Linked DNA regions of Homo sapiens: all the other regions are linked to region 1. The links come from fine-mapping of genetic effects on gene expression. A gene starts in region 1. Each other region holds a variant in brackets. All regions are shown on one strand. Distances are between the middles of the regions.

Region 1 (5,888 bases):
TCCTGACATTTTTTCATTGTATTTTTCACAGAAATTTTTTAATCATTCATCAGCTAAAAGATTTAAATTTTCTTTAAAAGGACTACAAAAACACACCTTTCCTGAATTTATGCACACTACCTACTAAATATTATCTCCATTTACATATAAGGAAACCAAGGCACAAAGGTGTCCATTTTGTAAATTGCAAGGTCATTTCCTAACCAAGCAACTAATCCTACACCATCAACTTATATTATATGTACGCCACTTCCAAGTGCCATAAAACAATTACTATACCTTAAAACTGCCTCTGCAATGCTTATGTGATTCTCTTTTATCAAAAGGGTAAATGCAACAAGCTTAAACAAGGAAAGATGGAAAAGGAAAATTATAAAAATACAACACTTACTTTTTATAGTGAATCATTTATTTTTAAATAATGAGATGTAAACAGTTTTTAACATAAAAATCAAGTAACCAACAGTGGTTTCTTATATTTGCAAAAAAAAAAAAATTTCATCCTTCAGGTAGATCACGCAAAACTGAAGCCTACTCATACTTGTAGATTCAAGTTAGAAAAAAAAAAACTGGATTCTAAAACAAGTAATTAAATACATGATATTGCAAAGAAAAAAGTGAATAAAAAATAAAATCAGATAAATTAGGGAATGACTGATATGATGGTTAAAATCCTCATCTTAAATATTAAATCCTTCCATTCAATGGAAGGCAACGATTAGTAATGACATATTCTGCTACCGAAAAACAAATACAAAACTTTTCTTATTCAAAACTTCCGAAATTTTATATCAAATACTTCATTCAAATATTCAATATAAACAAAAATGTTTCCTAACAGAAACTTAGAGCATAAAGGATAAACTGTTCCTGAGAGTTCAAATTGAGACTGCATTTCTAATTATGATATAATGCTATGAACAATCAGAAAAATGAATGTTACCTACCATGCAAATTTAAATTTAAGAACATTAGACGGATTGAATAACCAATAAGTCAATTACATCAATTAGTGAACAGAAAAAAGACCTTAGCTAATCGTGAATCTAACACCAAAGAAAAAATTTAAGTCGAATCCACCGCACATCTTATTACATAGAAAAGGAAATGATTAGAGTAAGTCGTATTTAAGTACCTAGTCTAGCTGGGGATCAATTAATTAATCGGTTATAGGGCAGGACGTGAATGTTGAGATCGGATGTGCTTTCTTTCATCGTTATTCCAGTTCATCATCCGCAAGTGCAAGAGAAGGTGTCAGAGTACCGAAGCTAGGGGGCATGCTGTAGCAAGGGGAAAAGAAAAATGGGAAAGGTGCAATGGATGCTGCATAGTTGAATAATTATCTGGGTGGCACAATGGGCGAGTCCTGCCGACATGAGCGCTGAGTGAGCGGCTCCGTAACTCTGCCCAAGGCAGCCCCCATGAACAGGCACCAGAAGCGACAGCACCGCTTCGCCTCCCCTTCCAACGAAGAAAAGGATGCCCGCACTCGCTTTACCGTTATGTTTTCAGACACCGACTCGCGGAGCAAACACGCAAACGCACGAGCTCGCTTTACCGAGCCTCGCGCACGTAGGGCGAGCAGGGGATTCTCTGTCGCCCGGGGCTACCGCCTCCCCCGGAAAGAGGCACGGGGCGGACCGCGGGCGCGGGTGGGCAGGGAAGCCCGGGCGGTGGCACCTCAGGTGACACCCACAGTCTCTCCAGCGAGAGCAGCCCCGGGGCGGTCCCTGCAGCCAAGCCCCAGGCGCGCCCGCCGCCGTCTCCCTCGGCACCCAGCCCCGCTGGCGGGTGGGCGGTGGGCGCTCGGAAAACCCGCGGATGGGGGTGGGGGCCGGGGCGGGGAAGGCGCGCCCATCCATCCCCGTCACCTTTGCGGGCCACACACCACTCGGTCTGCTCCGGCCAGTAAGGAAGAGTTCCTCTCCCAACACCCCCTCCCCGAAAAAAGCAATTCCTCAGGGACTCGCGCTCACCGTGAAATCTTGGGGGCTCACGCCTTACCCCTTCTTCATGCTTCGGCAGCGGTCGCCGGTCCCCCTCGGCTCGCGGGACTCCGCCTAGAGCCCCCAGGAGGGTCGGGCTCTGGGGCGGAACCCGCTCAGGGCAGCGGCCCAGGCGCCAGGCCACAGGGAACGCCGCCTGGGGCGCCAACCCGCCGCCGGACCCACCGTGTGCTCGACGCGCGAGTGAACAACACCGCGAGCTGCCGTTCCCCCCGCCCCCTCCCCGCGCGAGACGCTCCACAACCGGGCGCAGGGACCCGCGCCAGAAGCAGGGGGGACCGCGAGACTCTTTCCGCCTATGGTCCCATCCTTGCCCCCCGCCCCAGGAGCTATTCCTGGCCAGTCAGAGGTCTCAAAACTTCAGATTCTCACTTTCCTCTTCAGCCTCCAGTGCCCAGGTGCAGCCGAGGTGGGAAATCCAGCCTCCGCCCACTCCCCCATTAGTGGGGCCGAAGCTCGCTCTTCCCCCCTTTCCTGAGGTTCTGTGGTATTGCCCAATCCTCAGTTTGGGGGAGGGGGACGAAGAGAACACTGCTTGGCTAGGGAATGAGGGAAGATGATAGCCAATTGAATGGAACATCCATTCGGGGGCGGGGTCAAAGGGGGACACGCCCCCGTTCCGCCCCCTCGTTGCAAACTACACTTCCCATTGTGCCCTCTCGCGCTTCCTGCCGCGCTGCACGCTGGGAGTGCAGGACCGCGAGGCCTCAAGGTATTTTGGAACTCATATTCTTTAGTCAACTAGGTCCTAAATGTTATAAACTATTATAATTCTCCCTTTTTCCCTAGATAAACTTTTTTAAGCTCTCAGCTCGACAGTAGTTATTCTAATAATAATTAGCTTATTGTTTCAAAATGTAAGACATTATTTCTTAGCAAAGAAAGTTAATGATGTGTTCCATTGCAATCTGTCAGGACCTGGGAGCCTCTTCTTCTTCCGCCCTGGCAGGGTCTCCGCAGAAGATTTGTTGCCGTCATGTCGGCTGCGATTGCAGCTCTGGCCGCTTCCTATGGTTCGGGTTCAGGGTCCGAATCGGACTCGGACAGTGAGAGCAGTCGGTGTCCGCTGCCAGCCGCCGACTCCCTCATGCACTTGACTAAATCGCCTTCATCAAAGCCGTCTCTAGCAGTGGCAGTGGACTCGGCTCCGGAGGTGGCAGTTAAGGTAAGCACTTTTGCTACTAATGCAGTGTGGGAATTGTTGGCTTCAGCTCCAGAACTGCCAGCCGCTTGTTAGGTACCGGGTTACCTCTTTCTCAGTGCTCAGAGATAAGTTGCTAACGTTTGAATTTCTTCTCCTTCCCACATGCATCCTCGGGAGAGGCAGAATTGGAAGTTCGGAATAGCCCTCCGATGCTCTCTGCCCTTGCCTCCCGCCATCAGAAAGCAAGTGGAAGGAGGGGATGAAATTTGAATTTGTGGATTAGGGACATAGCCTGGAAAGTGCAGGTGTAATCTCGGAACATAAGTGAAATTAGATCAGGACTTCCCAAACTAGAGTATTGTGTGAGCAGTGGCCTCGATTTGTCTTATTTTTGAAGAACTAGGTTCTAATCCTGGCACCACCACTTGTGTGAACTTGGACAAGTTATGCAGCCTCCTTTCTTTCCTCACCTGTACAGTGGAGATCATTTTCAAAACATCTGTCTACATGAAAAGATGAGTGTGAAAATTGAGTGAAATTACACAAATAAAGCATATAGCACAGAGCCAACTAGTGAGAGTGCAGTAAATGTTTTATGATTGTGTGTGTTAATACAGTGAGAAAAAGGCCTTGGATTTGAGAAACAGCTGCATGATCTCAATGGAGGAAGCTGATTAATAAGGCAAGAGTTTCCAGGCAGAGGTGACAGGCAAGCCTGAGAACGCAAAGAGCCTAGTGGGTTTGAAGAACTGAGGAAAAGCTGATGTGTCTGGAGCCTGATGAGAGCATCTACCAATTGGTAGTGTAGGCCCAGTAGAGCCCGAGGTAGGTGATCAGCTCAAGATGTGAAGAGGGGAGGCGGTGTCCAAAAATTCCTTTGTATCATGTCCCCAAGTCTAGTTTAATGACTTAAGAAGTGTTTTACAGGTTTTTAACAAGCTGTATGTGAATTTTACTTTTTAAAAATGGACATCTGTCATGAAAGAATGCTTAGAATCCTCCTAACTTCCTATCAAAACAAAACTTTCCAAACTTAAGCCCCTCCAGTAACCTCCTGAGTCTTCTCCTTTCACAGCTCAGCTTTTTGGAGCTCTCTTTTTGTCTTCGTCTCATTTTCTCCTCAACCCAATGCAGTCTGGCCCTATCCTCTTGGGAAACTACTGTCTGTGAGTGATGTCCCAGGCCTTCCAGTTGTCAAGTTCAGCCATCTGACTTAAATGTCTGCATCAAATGACACTGTTCATTAGTTCCTCTTTCTTGAAACTTTCTCTCCGTTTCGCTTCCATGGGGCTCTACTCAGCATTCTGTTCCAATTATTTTACTCTCCCTTTTCAATACTGGTGTTTCCCAGGACTCTGCTCTTAGTCCTCTTTGCATTCCACATATTCTCCCATACCTTCAACCTCAGGCTGTGCTGCTTCTAGCTCAAGGTGAACACCGTGAAATGGTTAGCACAGGCTCTGGAATTAAGACTGTAATTCAAATCCTGCCTCCAGCACTTACCCACCTGGGGACCTTGGATAAGTTACTTAAATGCTCTGTACCTAATTTTTGCTGATCTGTAAAGTAGGAATAACAGTAGTACCTATCTAACAGAATTATAATAATTGTCATAAAAGATGTAAAGCCCTTTTAACAGTGCCACACACAATGAACACTAATTAAATGCTTGCTATCCTTTTATTTCCAGTTCTATCCTCCTTGCTAGCTTACGATCTTGAGAGGTATATAAAAATCTCCCACAGTAATTGTACATTTGTCTTTTGCAGGTTGGCGCTCAGCCACCTCCAATTCAGTGTGTCGAAAAATTATTTTCTTTCCCTCAAAATCCACTTCTGTTTTTCCTATTTTGATCTGTCATCCCACAATCCACCCACTAGTTGAAGCCGAGAACAAAGAAGGTATCCTTTTCTCTTCCTTCTTCCTCAGCCCCTGAAGCTAGTCATTCAATTGATTCTAACATTGCTGTTTCATTAATTTCTCTCACATCAACTCCTTCCTTGCTATTTTCACTGGTGCAGGCTTCATATCTTCCTTATTTCTCCCAGGAGTTATTCTTTTCTTTCTCTTTCAGCCTTTTTGGGTAGTGGGTTCTGTCCACTTTAACTCAATGATATTCATCAAATCTCTCTCTTCTGCTGCCACTGTTTAGTTCAGATTCTCATCATTTCTCTTCAGACAGTTGTAGCCTTCTAACTGATCTTTCTACTTCTTCCTTTCTTGTCTCCCAGTTTTATACCCCATTCTTTTCTCCACAGTGCACTTAGAATGATCTTTGTAAATTCCACTTACATCGTATCACTTCCCTGCCCAAAGACACCATGTTGTCCAATGGGTGATTTCTAAGTTTTTTTGGTAGCATGTGAGTCCTGCTATTCTCCCATGCTGAACTCTTTACAAAGCCCTGAAAGCCGAATTTTCTTTCTTCCTCTGAAGATTTTGCCCACGCTAGTCTTTCTGCCTGGAAATCCCTTGCCTAGTGCCTCCTTCCCCCACTCCAAACACTGTGGTCCTTCAGTCTCAGTGTATATGTTTCCTCCTATTTTACCTTAGCCCCTTTATCATATCTTAACTATAGCACTTAGCACATTGCTGTAACTTGTTCATCTTTTTCTTTCCTCTGGACTGTGAGACCCTGGGGTCCAGAGACTGTTGTATCCATTCGTTTGTGTCTCCAGTGCCTAGTACACAAGATTAGGGAAGTATATTTGGTAAGAGAATGGAATGAAAAAGAAAGT
Region 2 (5,888 bases), 68 kb before region 1:
CTCAGCCTCCCAAAGTGATGGGATTACAGGTGTGAGCCACCACATCCAGCCAACAATTCTTAAGTTATCCTTCTCCTTAAAATAATATTCCTGTCATCCCCTCAAGTAAATTCACTCAACATGAACATGGGACCAATGGCACAGAAGGTACAATAGGCTGGCTCTGCAATGGTGGCACCATAATTCCATTTCTAGCAATTCCACTGCTGCATGACCTGTAACACACTTATAAATACTAAAATAAAATTCAGAGAAGCAAAAAGTTTTTCCCCACTATCACTAAAAAGTGGCACTGGAGATACAGTATTTAATGAGTACATACTATATGTGCTAGATGGTTTCACTAAATTTCATTTCATTTAATCTTTACAATTCAGTAAGACAGGAATTATTACTCCATTGTGAAATATAAGAAAGCTAAGGCTAGGAAATAGTATATAACTGACCTGAGGTTAAACAGTTAATAAACAGCAGAGCCAGAACAGAAAAGTCAGATCTGTCTACCTTTGAGGCTAATCTTTTTGCCACAATACCACACGCTGTTCTCAGGCTCCTGCCAGAAGTGGGTTGTGTTTTCTGCAGTCAAAGTGGATCAATTCTTGCCACTCTCCTGCCCCACTTATTAATCAATAAGTATGTAATTAAGATGAAACCTAGTGTTTAATCTCGCCAAACTTCCTTGGTAAAGGATGTAAGAAACATGTAAACTAATAAGCATGATGTACTTTTCTATCTTCAACTCCTCTCATTTATCGTTTGTCTTATTATTAACAGACTATTGTGGTGAAGCTCCTTCCACTTGCCAACAATAACATCTGATATTAATAAAATAGAATTATAAAGCAATAAATTAGCATAATGCTTATAAACATAATTGACTTAAATATAATTGTACAAGTCTTTGTTTAAAATTCATTTAAAAAATATTTTCAAAATTGATAGTTTTTAGTTACTACAAAACGGTTAAAAAAACTGATACCACACTGTGCTATTTAGTACTGTACACATGATGTTTTTTTTTTAATTCCCACTGAATTAAAAAACCTAGGTTAAATAACTGAAAACTCCTTCAATACAACCTCTCCAAAACAATTTCAAATTAAGTAGTTCAGCTTTTAGATTCTGAATTCTTCCCCCACTGCTCCACAAAATTTTAAAGGAAACTAGGTATAATTCTGACAGTATAGCTGTTGACATATTAAAATTTGTTTTTTAACACAAACATCTTAATTTATTTACTGTTATCTGTATTTTCACTTTCAAGTTTAATGGTGGCTCTAAGACATTTGTTAAAATGTAACAATATTTTGAAACTAAATGTTGATTTTTATTTCTGTTACATATGAGAACTGCCTGTGTATTTCTCTATTATTTGATGGCATAAATTTATATTTAAGTGATAAGCAGTTGAGTTATCTGAAAAACAAATTTTGGCTATAAATTATGTATTTGAAAGCATGACCATAAAATATTTTTCACCACTAACAATGATTTTATTTCAAGAATTCCATGAGGTGTAATTAATGTATTGATACATGCACATGTTTCAAAGGATACCACCAAGAAAGACAACCTAAAGAAGGGGAGAAAATATTTGCAAATCATATATTTGATAAAGGATTTAGATCCAGAATATACACAGAATTCCAACAAGTCAAAAATAAAAACACGAATAATACAAATTATAAATGGGCTAAGGAATTAAATAGACATTTCTCCAAAGGAGATATTCAAATGGCCTGTAAGCACATGAAAACATACTCAACATCATTAGCCATCAGGGAGATATAAATACATGCTATATGAATGAACCTTGAAAACATTATGCTAAAAGAAGCCAGTCACAAAAGACCACATACTGTACTATTCATTCATATGAAATATCCATACAGACAGATCCATACAGACAAATCCATAGAGGCAAATCCATACAGACAGAAAGATCAGTGATTGCTAGGGGTTGAGCTGAAGGGGAAACAGAGTGACTGCTAATGAGTACAGGGCTTCTTTCTGGAGTGATACAAATACTCTAAAATTGATTGTGGTGACGGTTGCATAACTTGAATATACTAAAAAACACTGAATTGTACACTTCAACTTTAAATGGGTGAACTGCAAGGTATACGTAGGTTGTGAAATATATCTTAATAAAGCTATTTTTTAAGTATTATTTCCTTTTCTTCTTGTATCCAGAGCTCTGAGTTTACATTTTACAAGTGGTACAAATCTAGTATGCCAAGTATTTGCCTCTCCTTATTTACACATTGGATTATTTCAAAAGTAGCTGGTTCCATCACTAAGACATCTATCATTACATTATATTTTTGTTCTTTCCACTGACATCCTTTAGTATTTTTATTGTTAAAGTTTAGATCTATTATATAATTTGCATTTATACTAAAAATTAGATCTATCATATAATTTGTGTTTATACTATTTAATGCAACAAAAATATTTTGAAGAGAGTGTAAGAAATTCCATTAAACAATTCTCTGTGGTAGGTAAGTGCAAATTATGTTCTTAGTATTGCATTTCTTTTTGTGAAACAAACAAAAAGATGCATTTGGGAAACGTCGGCATTCAATGTATTCTATCAAGGCATAAAACATGATTTTACCACCGAAGTTTCTACAATTATTTTAGCCTATCTGATTATTCCTGATTTAATATCTTGGTATAGAATGTTTACACCCTACATACTGGCAATTTGTTTTTGAAATGTTCATTTAAAGTAGGAAGTTGCATTCAGTTAAATAACTAATAAGACTTTAGCAATATGCACATACAAAAGCATATTAAAAGCAGTTACATAGCCAGGTGTAGTGGCTCATGCCTATAATCCCAACACTTTGGGAGGCCGAGGTGGGCAGATCACAAGGTCAGGAGTTCGAGACCAGCCGGACCAACATGGTGAAACCCCATCTCTACTAAAAATAAAAAAATTAGCCAGGCGTGGTGGCAGACACCTGTAATCCCAGCTACTCAGGAGGCTGAGGCAGGAGAATTGCTTGAACCTGGGAGGTGGAGGTTGCAGTGAGCCGAGATTGCGCCACTGCACTCCAGCCTAGTGACAGAGTGTCTGTCT[C/CAA]AAAAAAAAAAAAAAACAAAAAAAAAACCAGTTACATTCTTGTAGAATCAAACCTAAAGATTTCAGGTAATTTTCTAATAATTTTTATTTCTAAGACAAAAGTATACAAATAAATTATAAGGGAGAAATGAAAAGAGAAAGATAATGAAGAGAATGGAGGAAAATGTCTGGTTAAAATGACTTCTTTATGCAAAAAAATTAGGAGCTGTTTAGTGTACAAAAAGAAGAGATTTAAAACAGAGTAGAAAAGAAAAGCCCGGAGAATCATACTGATGGCATTTTTAGATAATTCACTGATTTATTACAATATGTACACCAAAGGACATGGGTATGATCTGTAATAAATTCATGATTAATACTGTTAAGTATATCATTCATCTCATCTAACTTAAAATATATACGTAGAAGAAAATACAATATTAATAAGCTTACATTCTTCTTCCTTTGGATCAAGCTGTGTAACACTAACAGATAAACGGTCCACACGTTCTTGCAATGAGTTGACTCTGAAGGAAAAACTATGTGCTTCATTGAATAATTCTCCAAATATATCTTCAGCATATTTACCTAAGCAAAAATGACACATATATCATAAAATTTAACATCCAGAGCACTGAGTTTTTATCTTTGCAAGCAGTAGAAATCTAGCATGATATTTGCCCTCAGATACTTTGTGATCAGAGATAAATAATGAACAATGTAATATTACAACTGGTGACCTGTTGAATTTGGAATTTATTTGGAATTACAGTTGACCCTTGAACAAAATCGTTTAACTGTAATAGTCCACTTACATGTGGATTTTTTTCAATAAATACATTGAAAATTTTGGAGATTTGAGACAATTTGAAAAAACTTGCAGATGAACCACATAGCCTAAAAATACTAAAAATTTTAAAGTATATTTTAAAGATATGAATGCATAAAATCTATGTAAATACTAGACTATTTTATCATTTACTACCACAAAATATACAGAAATTATAAAAAGTTAAAATTTATCAAAATTTACACACAAAACAAAAACATACATAGTGCCATTCACAGTCAAGAGAAATATAAAGAAATGGAAAGATATATTAGGTTGGTGCAAATGTAATTGCAGTTTTTGCCAACCTAATAGTACTAAATCATAACAATAAATTTAAGTGTAATACTGTATTACTGTAACAATTTTATAGCCACCCTCTGTTGATACTGCAGTTAGCTCTAGTGTTGTTACTATCCACTTAAAATGCTGTTTGAGCAGTTCTCTCTCCACTAAATTGCATATAAGAGTAGGAAGTAATCTCTCATGGTTCTTGTGTATTTTCCATCATGTTTTATGCAATACTGTAAACCTTGAATACATTGTGAGACTCATTCAAAGTGCCACCAGTGATGCTGGAAGTACTCTCAAGTACAAGAAAGTCATAACACTACAAGATAAAGTTGAATTGCTTGATATGAACCCCAGATTGAGGTCTACAGCTGTGGTTGCTTAGCATTTCAAGATAAATGAATCAAACTTAAGGGCAATTATAAAAAAAGAAAAGGAAAATCATGAAGCCATTGCTGCAGATACACCAGCAGACACAAAAACCTTGTACTTTTTGCGAATACCTTTTAATCTTGTATCAAAATGCAATTTTTGTGGGTGCATGGCTGTTACAAGAAAGCATACATACAGACTCTAACATGATTTGAGAAAAAGTGAAGTCCATATATGACAACTTAAAGCAAAAGGAAGGCAAAGGATCTAAACCTGGAAAATTTAATGGCAGTAAAGGATGCTTTGATACTTTCAGGAAGAGGTTTGGCCTCAAAAATGTCACAAGAGAAGCTGCAGCTTTTGTCAGCCAAGAGGCAGCAGATGAGTTCCCAGATGCCATTAAGAAAATAATTAGTTTCCATGTATGCTGCTTGAAAAAAAAAAAAAAATTGGCCAGGCATGACAGTCTGTAATCCTAGCACTTTGAAAGGCTGAGGTGGGCAGACTGCTTGAGCTCAGGAGTTTGAGACCAGCCTGAACAACATGGTGAAACCCCGTCTCAACCAAAAATACAGAAATTAGCTGGGCACGATGGTATGTGCCTGTAGTCCCAGCTACTTGGGGAGGTGAGGCAGGAGGATCACTTGAGCCTAGGAGGTCGAGGCTATTGTGAGTCGTGATCATGCCACTGTACTCCAGCCCAGCCTGGGTGACAAAGTGAGACCTTCTCTCTCTCTCTCAAAGAAAAAAAAAAAAACAAAACAGAAAAGAAAAAGAAAAAAATTGAGTAGAAACAATATCTGCCTGAACAGAGTTTTAATGCAGATGAGAGTGTCCTATTCCAGAAAAAAAAAAAACTGCTACAGAGGACATTTATTAGTAAGAAAAAGTGAACACCAGGATTTAAGGCAGGAAGGGACACACTAACTCTATTGTTTTGTGCAAATGCAGTCGGGTTTATCATCAGAACTGCCCTTATCTATAAAGCTGCTAACCTCAAACCTTGAAGGAAAAAGAAGGCCAAAAGAAGAAGGCAAGACAACAAGAAGGCATGGACAATGAGAATCCTTTTTCTGGATTGGTCCCATTGACGCTTTGTCCCTGAAGTCAGGAAGTACCTTGCCAGTAAGGGAATGTCTTTTAAAATTCTTGTGATAACTGTACAACATCTCTGGCCACTCAGAACCCCATTAGTTTCACACTGAAGGTGTCAAAGTGGTCCACTTGCCCGCAAACATGACAGCTCTAATTCAGGCTCTAGATCATAAGGACATTTAAGACTCATTACACATGGTATTCTGTGGAAGACTGTCAACACTATGGAAGAGAATC
Region 3 (5,888 bases), 210 kb after region 1:
TTAACATGCACAAGGGTGAATTAGAGTGAGTCCCCATGATCCAATGGGGTACAGATGGTTCTATACCCTTCTTCTTAGGGGAAAGGAAGATGGGGAAGTGTGGATGATTTTAGGGGAGTTGTAAATGATTTTTAGGGGAATTCAGTGGGTTTAAAGAACATATAATGGCCTGGGACAAAGTTGGTTGGGTCTGCTTAGCAGACAATGGTTTGGGACAGAAGTCTGTCCAGGTGTGTTGACAGACTTCAGTCTTTCTTCCTGTCATATGAGTTCAGTTCATGAAAACTCAGGGAAGGTACCAGAGGTAACTGATTTTTTTCTTTGGTGGTTTGGACTTCAGGCAGATAATGGAACTTCAGAGAACAGCTGCATCCTGTACTTTGGGAGAGACAGGATTGGGGTAGAGAAGGTCAGACAGACCTTGAGACTTCTTCAGTTCAGCATGTCAATGTGCCATATTCTGGGGTTTCAGTTTCAGAGCCCAAACACTGACCTAACTCAATTTATAGTTTGATACTTTTGCAGAGCCTACTAAAACCTTGACTTTTACATTGCCACCAAGACAAAAGACTACATTCCCGGCTTCCCTTGAATCTCAGTGTAACCCTGAGGCTAAATCCTATGAAGTGAAATACAAGCAAAGGTGTTATGTGAACCTTCTGGGAACTGTCCTTGGAGAGTGGATATAATGATGTGCTGGAGCTCTGACTGCCATCTTGGATGTGAGCACAAGGGCCACACCCTTGAAATAGCATAGTATGAGCTGGAAGGAGCCTGGATCACTGATGACCATTGGAGACCTCACAACAGCCCTAAACTGCCTGTATCTAGGCTTCTTTTATGTGAGTGAAATACATGACCACCTTGTTTAAGCAAATATTTAGGGGGTTTCTGTTACCTGCAATGGGGCCTAAACCTGACAGTTTCCTCTGCTCCAATAAGCTGTAACCAGAGAGGTAGGGCCTGAGGGATACTGCCCACACAGTGAATCTTCCAGGTCTGAGCAGATTTCCCAGGAAAGGAGTCCTGGGCAGAGCAAAAAGACCATGTGGAGTTTCAACCACACTGGTTGAGTTCCATTGACAGACGACTTGGATCTGCAAGGAAGAGAAATACCGGGATACATGAAAAATTGGGTCCTGGGCTCATACCATAGAATGTGCACCAGTATAAAAAAAATTATAATTCAAGGGGAACAGGCTCTGGGAGGTGGAATTGTGGGAATCATGGCTGCAGGCCAGGTTGACAGGTGCCTTGAGTAGATGGAAGTCAATTGTTCTGCTAATAATTGAAGAAGCATTGGTTATATTTATAAGAGATCTGGCTAATGCATTCCCTTTGGCTACTTAGGGCTGTGATTTATTGGCAGCAAAGTTACTTAGAATAATAAAACCCCCAGGCCTTGTGGCAAACTGCTGAGATTTTTCAAGAAGAAAGGGACCACTTAAAGATCTCAATTGGCTTTTCTTGAGTGAATGATATCCTGAGGAAGCAGGTTTCAAATGTGTCTCCATCATTCACACCCTTAAGAAGAAAAACGAGAGAAATAAAAAAAATGCTACATTTATTTCAAATATTTGACAAGTTACGAAAGTCCTGAAACAGGTTTCTAAGAACTACAACTCCCAGTGGACACATGTTCCACCATCCTTTTCTTCCTTTTTTCTAAAAGCTTTTAATTGATTGAGAAAAACCGGTTCAAATATCAGTTGATTTGAATGCATTATTCAATAAAAGGAAGAATATATGTCATTTTTAAAAATAGCCTTTCTTCTATACAACTGTGTCCACCTGGGCTATGGCCTTTCTGTTAAACTTTTTTTTTTCTTCCTAAGCAAATAAAATCCCAAAAGTTAAAAAAAAAATCCTAAAACTTTGTGCATAACCTTTGCCTGCTGAAGAAGCACACGCTGGCAATGACAGGGCTCAAAGCAGCCTCGTTCCTCTGGGTCACAGACACAGCAGGCAGACACTCAGCCACAAAGGCCAGACACTTGAAAGCAGAGATTTAAGAAGGAAATCAGTTGTTCTTCATGTTCAGAAAAAAATAAAAGATGTTCTGAAATAGAAAACAAGAAAGAAAAAATAAAGCAGTCTATTCTCAGGCAGTAGCACCGATTACCCAGGAAGACCTCAACTTATATAAACATTGAAATCTTTGAAGTAAATGAAGATAAGCTGTGATGGTTAATTTTATGTGTCAAATGGACTGAGCTAAGGGTGCCTAGCTAGCTGGCAACACATTATTTCTGGGTGTATATATGAGGATATCTTTGGGAGAGATAAGCATTTGAATCAGTAAGCTAAGTAAAGAAGATTATCTTCACCAATGTGAGTGGACATCATCCAATCTGTTGAAGGCCTGAATAGAAGAAAAAGGTGAGGAAGGACAAATTTGCTCTCTGCTTGAGCTAGGACATCTGTCTTCTCCTGTCCCTGGATTTCAGCACTGTGGCCTTCAGACTTACTCCACTGGCTCCTCTGGGTTTCGGGCATTCAGGCTTGGACTAGAACTGCATCAGCTCTCCTGGGCCTCCAGCTTACAGACAGCAGATCATGGGATTTCTCAGCCTCCATAATTGTGTGAGCCAACACTCATAAGAAATTTCTTTCTATATGTCTACATATGTCCCACTGGTTCTGTTTATCTGGAGAACCCTGACTAATATACCAGTCAAATGAGAAATGCAAAGGCTATTTCTTTAGATTTTACTATAGCAAGGGAGTCAGCCCATCACACTTACATTTGGCAGAGATTCAAAGGTAGGCAGAGGGGTGAGAAAGCTTCACAACAGAAAAAAGAGAAGACTTCACATATGTCCTGATAGGCATGGGGACACTGTAGGCAAGTTAACTAGAAGCAAAGCATCCTATATGGTTGGTCCTAAGTTAGAAGTGGGGGCAAGCATATTTTTTTTCTCTGATTTGTTCTAAGTTAGAGGTGGGGGCAAAAATTAGGGATGCTGTCAATTATTAATCAAGTCCTGGCCATTTTGTGTGAATTGTTACAGAAGTTATTGTTTATCTTTCTGGATTATTTCTAGAGAT[G/A]GCAATATGGCTTCCTGCAAGTCTGATATACTTGTGTAGCAGGCTGGCTTCCTGTGTTGTTTATTGTAGATAAGGGAATTGGTTTCCTGGGCAGGTTGCTGCAGCTTGTGGGCCAGAGTTCTATTTTTATATGTGGTCTAGCCATTGTCCATTTGTACATTCAGTCTGTTGTCTTTCAGATAAAGACAGATAGCTGTCTTGGAGCAGCTGACTGATAGCCAGCAAGGTGATTCCAGTATTTCTAGAGAGCTATTTTGGGACAGCTAATTCCTCTAGGCCACCTTGCCCAGAAGTGCCTAAGGACACACTTGCCTAAGTGAGCACATCCCTCTGAGCTCGATGCCCCAAGATGGCGAGGAAGGAAGGGAAGGATAATGGTGACGCTAGCAGTGGGGGCCTAGAAGGAGGGGAGGGAAGTAGTGCTCAGTGGTTCTCAGCCCTGGCTCTCAGAACTTTGTGGACAGCTTTAAGTAAACACTGATGCAGCAGCTCCGCCCCACCCACCAAAGATTCTAATTTCATAAAGCAGGCCTGGGCATCAACATTGTTTAAAAACTTCCCAGGTGATTCTAAGTTGCAGCCCAGGTTGGCAGCTACTGACCAAAATGAATAATGTTTCAGAGACACTGGGAACAATATTTAGCAATTAGTGAAAATGAAATCAGGGCATGCAGCCACAACCACTTTCTCAAGAAGCCTCCAGTCTTGCACTCTTGTAGCATTGCACTTTAGAAATATAAAACGCAGAGTGAAGCTGAACTAGAGTAACAAATAGGCAAAGGTCATAGAAGGTGAGCCCACAACACACAATAAAAATGCCACAGGATCTGAACCACAGGCATAGTGAACAAAGGAGTACACTTAAAGCTGCTTCGAAATGACTGAAATTCTACCTATTCTGAACAGTGGCCTTCATTTTTATTTTTAACTATTAAAAAATTATTTCCTCCTTTAAAAAATGCTGTTTTATCATAACCTTTTATTTCTCACAGATTATGTATGATGCATATGTGTTTCCAGTCTGTCTAAACTTATACATTTCTCAAATACTTAAAACAGAATTCAGAAGAGTTGCACTTGGAGTATATAAACTCCAAAACCTCAAAAGAAGCACGCACACTCTATATACCTGGTATCCATCTTTCATTTCTAGTCATTTCTAAATTTTTGAATGTACCAATGTATCTGAATCTGATACAACACCACCCCCTGGTGGAAATCTATAGAAAAGAGCCCACACTTGATTTTACTTGAGAATGTTAATACTGCAAGGAATGATTATGACTGCATAAAACACTGGTGGGCTTCTCTCACTGTCTACCAGCAGAATGTTCTCTGCAAACAAAATCATATGCAAGTTCTGAATGAACGCAACAGTAAAGCTGTAGCTGTGCTAAGAGCTTTCTCTTTCCCACACTTTCATTGGCAACCCTGTATCTCACTCAGGATGTCCAAAATATAACTTACTGTATCATTTAACAGAAGTCGTCTTCCCCAAATATTAAAATTAAATCCATTTCTCCTCAAGCCTTTTTTTTTTTTTTTTGAGACGGAGTCTTGCTCTGTCACCCAGGCTGGAGTGTAATGGTGCGATCTCAGCTCACTGCAACCTCCGTCTCCCGGGTTCAAGTAGCTTCCCGAGTAGCTGAGATTACAGGCACCCACCATCATGCCCAGCTAATTTTTGTATTTTTATAGAGACGAGCTTTCACCATGTTGGCCAGGCTTGTCTTGAACTCCTGAACTCAAGTGATCCACCTACCTCAGCCTCCCAAAGTGCTGGGATTGCACCAAAGTACTGGGATTGCAGGCGTGAGCCACCGTGCCCAGCCTCCTCAAGCCTCTTTACTTCAATACCAGCACTTCATTTTCCGTCCACCCAAGCTCTCTAGAGGATTCACAATACACGTGCACACATTAGAGGCTCTGAGTAGGCCTGAGTCAAAAAACAGGTTAAATTCATTTAACTCAACAATTCCAACTCATTTTATTGTGAGACACATTCCCCTCCTCCCCAATACTTCTTAACAAACTGCGGAGTACTCTGATTATATTTCATTCAGAATGATTGTTCCACCTTAATTAGCAAATTAGTTCTTTGGCTGCACATGCTGTTCATCTTCAAAAATGCTTAGGCAAAGCCAACCATACCACAAACCAGCTCTCAATCATTTACAGTAATGGAATGTACAACCCCTAGGTGTTTGACCCCAGGCAGCTATTGAATTGATATGACATACATAGGCAACTTCATCTCTGTCTCCTACCATCATTACCAGCTGAGGGGAGGAAAAGCTTGCTGCTAGTACTAGGAGCAAGCATGCTTTGTCTTCAATTAAATGTAATAATCCAGCACTGTGTGAGCACAATGTAATTTTATTTAGAGGAATTATGTTGCTGACTTGGCTATAACCTAAGAAGATCACAGGCAGCTCTGCAATTGACAGTGATTTAAATGTTTTCCATACATTATCTCCTCCTGTGGATTTATAAGCCAAATGATATCAAAATCTCTATAGCTTCCAACATTCATATAAATCTGCATAGGTCCTTGGACATCAGTTCTAAATAAATTTTACTCTATAAGAAGTATTTTTAACAAAAAATAGAGCTTTATGCCCTATGCCATTAATGCTGGACTTCCTAAGTAAGCCTACATGTTGCATCATTTCTTTTGTTGTTGGTGTTTTTTTTAGAGGTGGGAACTGGCACCTCTAAAAAATGTTACCCAGATTGCACTCAAACTCCTGGGCTCAACAATCCTCCTGCCTCAGCCTCTCAAGTAGCTGGGACTATAGGCATGCCACCGTGCTCAGCTTACATGTTACACCACTTCTAAT
Region 4 (5,888 bases), 150 kb after region 1:
AAGAGCATCTGTTAGTGGGCAGGAAACAATGACTGAAGGAAACTGTTTATTCCTTTTTAGAGGGGGTGGGGGTGGGAGTAGTTGGGGGAGGGAGAGGCACAAAATGGTATCTGGACAGAACATGACTCTAGCCCTGGCTGAGGCTGTGAGCACTGCCGTTACGTTTCTGTAACGCCCTCAGTGTGTGCCCAGCGCTTCTGAAGGCTGCGAGGGGAGTGCCGGGTGCAGTTTCACGTGCCTTCCCCTCAGCCTTCTCCTGTAATTGGCCTGTTTCTCAGACCCGGCCCTGCTTCAGAAAGAGCAAGAATCAGTTATACATTGTGCAGTGATGTTTAAAATTCAGGTAACCCATGCAAAAATTTCATTTAAAAACAAAGGATCTCAGTTTCCGTTCTGGGTAAGCACACTCCCACCCCGCGCCTCCCACGGAATGCAGCAGTAAAACCTGGACAGAATGCACAGAGCGGTTATTTGAGGAATCTGAAAAGTAAACAGTAGCAGGCAGATTGGAGAAGAAGACCAGAATTCAAAGTACCTCGAAACTAGAAGCCAGGTCACCATTGCTTTTCCTTCTGGTGTCCTGCCCGCCCTACTCTAGGCTGCCTGGCACCGGTGGTGGGCACTGGCGCAGCCAGGAAGCACCAGGAGCAGCCCCGCAGTTCAGGCTCCAGGAGGCGGGGCGTCTCCCGATGCTCAGGGATAGTAGAGGAAATCCTCACTTTTCCTCCTTTTTTTTCCTTTCTCCGTTCTTGCAAGTAATCCCACTAAGATGGTAGAAGCCACAGTGGGGGCCTGAAGGCACCTAGAACTCTGCGAAAACGGAAGTTTCCTCTCCTCTCTGAGGCAGTGGACCCCAGAGAGTGGGGTGAATCCTCATTGACTATGTCTGTCTCTCTCTTCCCGCAGCTTGGCCTTGGACTCAGGCACAGTCACAGGAAGTGTGAAGCAGAGCGTAGGCAAAGCAGGGGTAAAAGCCCAAACTTTCTGGTCATAGATTCAAAAACCGTAGGGAACTGGATAATACTGGGGAAACTGGGGAGAAGGAGTAGCTTGGGAAGGCAGCCCCATTAACGGATTTGTAAAGCACCTGGGCTCACTCTAGAACTGTGCATGTGTGGATCTGATCCTGCCTGGCACAGCAAAGACTGAGAACTGAGCTAATAGATGGACCTCTGGAGCTAACAGACAGACAGACCTCTGCCCAAGCCCCAGACTGGCCTGGGCATACATGGGATACACATGGGACAGAGGTGAAACCCCTACCAAGCCTTTGAAAACAGAGCTGACATGGAAATTACAACCCACAGGAGGCTGGTGGGAACTTGAGGCCTGGACCCAACCAGGATAACTGCCTGTTAAAACAAATATATCGACATTATCCACAGTATTTAAACAAAACTCGGCCTTATAATATTCAAATTTTCAGGATACAGTCCCAAACTACTAAGCATATGAAGAATCAGGAAAATCCCAACTTATGTGGGAAAAAGACAATCAGCAGATGCCAATGTAGGCCTGATACAGATGTTGAAATTTTTGGCAAAGACTTAAGAGCAACATTTACAAAATAATCCATGAAGTAAAGGTGGACATGCTTGAAACCAAGGGCAAGATAGAAAGTCTCAGCAAAGAAATAGGAAGCATAGGGAGCCAAATGGAAATTCCAGAACAGAAAATACAATAACTGAAATAAAATCTCAGGGGATGAATTCAATAGCAGAAAGAATTTGACACAAGAAAGAGCCAGTGAACTTGAAGACAGATCAATAGAAAGTATCCAATGTGAAAAACAGAGAGAAAAATTATTGTGGGCAGGGGGGAAAGAGCCTTGGGGACCTGTGCAGCAATACCAAGTGGTCTAGCATTCATGTCACTGATATTCCAGAGGAGGGGAAGAAAGAATGCAGTGCAGGAAAAAAAAAAATTAAAGAAATAATGAGGCCAGGCACGATGGCACACACCTGCAGTCCCAGCCCTTTGGGAGGCTGAGGCGGGCAGATCACTTCAGCTCAGGAGTTCAAGGCCAGCCTGGGCAACATGGCGAGACCCTGTCTCTACAAAAATATAAAAATTAGCTAGGCATGGTAGTAAATCCCAGCTGTAATCCCAGCTACTCTGGTGGCTGAGGTGAGAGGATTGCTTGAGACTGGGAGGTCAAGGCTGCAGTGAGTCATGCTGTGCCACTGCACTCCAGCCTGTCTGACAAAGTGAGACCCTGCCTCAAAAAAAAAAAAAAAAAAAAAGGAAGAAAGAATGACTGAAAGACCCCCCAAATATGATGGAAAATATAGCCTAAAGATTCAAGAAGCTTTGCAAACCCCTCAGAGGAAAACTCGAAGAATTCCACACCTTTATGTGTCATAAGCAAAGTGCTGGATATTAAAGACAACAACAATAAAAAACTGAGCCTCTGCTAATCTTGTGACAGACCCAGTAGTGGGCCAGGGTCAAAACAACAAGGTGAGAACGGGCAGAGCCAGCCCGTCCCATAGGAGCCTCTTCCCCTCAGGCCCCCTCCCTGTCAAGACCCAGCTCTCTCTCTCTGCAAGCCCATCTGCTAAATGTCTCTGGCAGCAGACAGCAGGCATGCTGAAATTCAAATCCAGAGCGCCAATCTGCCGCCTCTGCAGCATGACACAGAGGGTAGGCTGGGAGGCAGGGGAGCCAGAAATCAAATCAGCTCTGACAAGAAAAAATGCATTATAATTCAAGCAGGTCCTGATAACTTTTAGGAAGGAATAAAAAATATAAGACAAGAAGGAATAAACACTCAACTCTGGATTTATCCTCTAAGTTATTTTGATAAGTTGGAAAGAGTGGCTAAACAAATTTGAGTTGGAGTTTGTTCTTAAATTGACATCTTTAAATTCACCACATTTTCTGTGTAGGTCAAAATGGTTCAAATGTGAGCAAGACTGAAACACACCAGGGGATGGCTAAGAGAATAAAACGTAATATATTTTAGATTTTTATCATGGGCAGTAAAAACAGAAGCCATATACCTAGAGTGGATCCAGTGAAAGCCGAGATTTTCACTTGTTTTCATGAGGTGGAAACTA[C/T]ACAGTGTCTGCATACGTAGTAAAGTTTCAGATGTCAAATTATGGGTTTCATTGAGGTAGCACATCAACCTGGAAAGGAGGGACGAGTTTCAGTTTTCTTATGAAAGTAAGTTTATATAAGAATGTTTCGGCCAGGCACGGTGGTTCAGGCCTGTAATCCTAGAGTTTTGGGAGGCTGAGGTGGGAGGATCACCTAAGGCTAGGAGTTCAAGACCAGCCTGGGCAACAAAGCAAGACCCTCATCTCTATGAAAAGTTACAAAATTAGCCAAGTGTGGTGGTACACTCCTGTAGTCCCAGCTGCTTGGGAGGCTGAGGTAGGAGGATCGCTTGAGCCCAGGAATTCAAGGTTACAGTGAGCTATGGTTGCAACACTGCACTCTAGCCTGGGCAACAGAAGGACAACATTTATCGAAAAAAAAAAAAAAGCAAGTGTGCCTAAGAAAGCAAAGGGAATTTAGAAAAACACTAACCATATTTGTAAGGATTATCTCTCTCTCTCTGCCTCTTCTTGTCTCTGTCTGTCTCTCTCACACACCCTGCCTCCACATGTATACACACCCTATTCAAAATACGTAAGGTTACCTGGACTTTCTGAAACTCAGAATCCTAAAAGTTTAACATCATCTGAATCAACACCAATCTGCTATGTTCATCGACTTACTTCAGTCAGTTACCCTTCCCCCAAACATTTACCAGCCCTGAGACGTCAGTGTATTCAGGAGGAAGGTCTGCTGCACCCCTATAAACCCATTTCAAAGATGCTTGGGATCCTGAGTTGCTATTAAAACCAAAGGGAAATGGGGGTTGGCAGAGGGTGGGGAGGACATAAAAGCCACCAGTTTGCTCCAGTTAATGCTTCCTGCCTTGAAATTTTGTCTGTCGATATTTGTAAACCGTGTTTTTATTTGAGATTTGTATTTTATTGGCATATTTTTCACTTGATTTTTATTTTATTATATTATTATTTATTTATGTATTTTTTGAGGGGAGTCTTGCTCAGGCTAGAGTGCAGTGACATGATCTCGGCTCACTACAACCTCTGCCTCCCAGATTCAAGTGATTTCTCCTGCCTCAGCTTCCCGAGTAGCTGGGATTACAGGTGGGTGCTAATTTCTGTATTTTTAGTAGAGATGGAGTTTCACCATGTTGGCCAGGCTGGTCTCAAGCTCGTGACCTCAAATGACCTGCCCACCTCGGCCTCCCAAAGTTCTGGGATTACAGGCGTAAGCCACCACGCCCAGCCTTGATTTTTAACCTATGTTACTTTGAATACTTCTTTTGTATACAGCACTGAGTTGATTTAATTTTATAAACTTTTCCCTTCAATAGTTATATTTCTTGATAACTGACACACTTAAGTGCATTTACATTACTTTATTTATACTTTTATTTTGAGGCTTTTCTTTTTATTTTTCCCATCCACTCTCTACATGTTGTCATTCTCAGATTTTCTGTATTTCATCATTTTTAATAAGAGTAACTTAGAAGTTATATATTCTATTTTCATTTTAGAGTAGTGTTCTCTATAAGTAAATAAGCCAGACAGAAAAAAAGTGGGGGGAGGAATGGAGACGAGAACAGGAAAAGGGGGGCCTGAGAGAAAACAGAGGAAAGGGGGGTCTTCCCGCAACACCTGCACAGCAATCTCCATCTTCCCCACGAGAGAACCTGCAACCCGGGGGCCCACAGGGCTCCCCGAGGTCTCTTTGGTGGCTCTCAGCCCACATCAGTCTCAACTTCACTCAAACCAGGGAAAGTGTTTCCTTTCCAGGCTTTAAACCAGAAGTCATTTTTATCACGGAAAAGAATTAAAATGCCTCACCTAGTCAGCAAGCGCAGGAGAACATGGACCGTGGCAGAAATAATGCATCCCAGAGGCCACAGAGAGCACCCAAAACACAGAGCAGCAGCATCCCACAGCCACCCCAAAGGCTGACAAGGGGACAGAGGCCACACGTGGCACAGGACATTGACGGGAAGCAAAGCCTTTCTTGGAAACCAGTTGTAGACACTGGATGGTGCTTGAATCCTCTCCTCTGAGACAGGACAAAAGCAAGCAGGACATAAAGTGCTCTGCCACGAGTAGACAGGCCCAGGGGTTGGGGGATGGGGGAGAGCAAAGCCACACACCATTTATCACATGGTTAAAGAGTAGCAGCGGTTTCCTCATGAGGCTATCACATCCCACTGAATATGTCATTGGTTGCACGTAACCGTGCAGGTATACATATATGTATTTCTCAGTTCTCAGCATTCATTCATCCATTAACTCTTTTGTCATTTTCATATTGTTCATGTTTCATACTGACCTATCCTACTCTCTTGCCATTTGACAATGATACAGTATTTGGTAGTCTCAGTAAATCCTACCTGACAATTACAGATAACGCTCTGGTTCCAGGACATTCCTTGCATGATTCTATATTTATAGAACATTTTTCTGTCTGAATGCACTATAAGTTATAGTGGCTGACAAGTTAGGAGAAGCCACATAAAAGCTTCTTTTGAATCTCTGGGAAGCTGCCACCAGGGCAGAACAAGGCAGGCAGAGTCGACTGGACTCCTCTGGAACCAAAAGTATTTCAACCTCAACCCTAAATGGAAGGAAAAATCCACAGTCTTTATTACGAAGTGGCCTTTTTCAGGGACATGAAGAATTGCTGAAGGAAGCAGACCTTTTTGGAAGTCAATCCATTCTGATTGGGTTTGCTGCTGTGGAACTCTCTGGACTCAGGATTCTTTGGTGAATGGGAGCAAGAATCTCCAAAGTTAGAAGCGAAGCTGCCAAAGTGGCAACTGACCTCAGCCCAGGACCCTCTCCCCATTT

Direction of the effects. Alleles are on the strand shown, and positions count from the first base shown. SD is a standard deviation of normalised expression in the study named. Not every link is listed here.
In carriers of allele C in region 4, the expression in neutrophils of the gene that starts at base 2,965 in region 1 tends to be lower than with T alone (moderate effect, 0.45 SD a copy in BLUEPRINT).

The links. PIP is the estimated chance that this variant, and not a neighbour inherited with it, causes the effect.
Region 2: its variant is fine-mapped to the expression of CDC40 in whole blood (INTERVAL, PIP above 0.99).
Region 3: its variant is fine-mapped to the expression of CDC40 in pancreas (GTEx, PIP 0.93).
Region 4: its variant is fine-mapped to the expression of CDC40 in neutrophils (BLUEPRINT, PIP 0.95).

The regions. Positions count from the first base shown.
Region 1 is chr6:110,177,463-110,183,350 of GRCh38, forward strand. CDC40 (cell division cycle 40) reads left to right here and starts at 2,965. Exons shown (of 15, transcript NM_015891.3): 1 at 2,965-3,171. The coding sequence starts at 2,983. It overlaps WASF1 (WASP family member 1), which reads right to left and starts at 2,208. Exons shown (of 11, transcript NM_003931.3): 1 at 1,977-2,208; 2 at 1,136-1,280. RefSeq lists silencers at 1,568-1,887, 2,128-2,237.
Region 2 is chr6:110,109,809-110,115,696 of GRCh38, forward strand. It overlaps WASF1 (WASP family member 1), which reads right to left. Exons shown (of 11, transcript NM_003931.3): 5 at 3,518-3,652. Among named protein-coding and RNA genes, the nearest start is that of WASF1, 67 kb to the right of the region's middle. The variant C/CAA (reference allele first, on the strand shown) is at 3,086.
Region 3 is chr6:110,386,774-110,392,661 of GRCh38, forward strand. DDO (D-aspartate oxidase) reads right to left here. Exons shown (of 5, transcript NM_001372108.2): 5 at 5,011-5,888. Among named protein-coding and RNA genes, the nearest start is that of DDO, 26 kb to the right of the region's middle. The variant G/A (reference allele first, on the strand shown) is at 3,049.
Region 4 is chr6:110,329,438-110,335,325 of GRCh38, forward strand. The region is part of intron 1 of METTL24 (methyltransferase like 24); the gene reads right to left. LOC102724586 (a long non-coding RNA gene) reads left to right here and starts at 5,817. Exons shown (of 5, transcript XR_428004.3): 1 at 5,817-5,888. RefSeq lists an enhancer at 663-1,163. The variant C/T (reference allele first, on the strand shown) is at 3,060.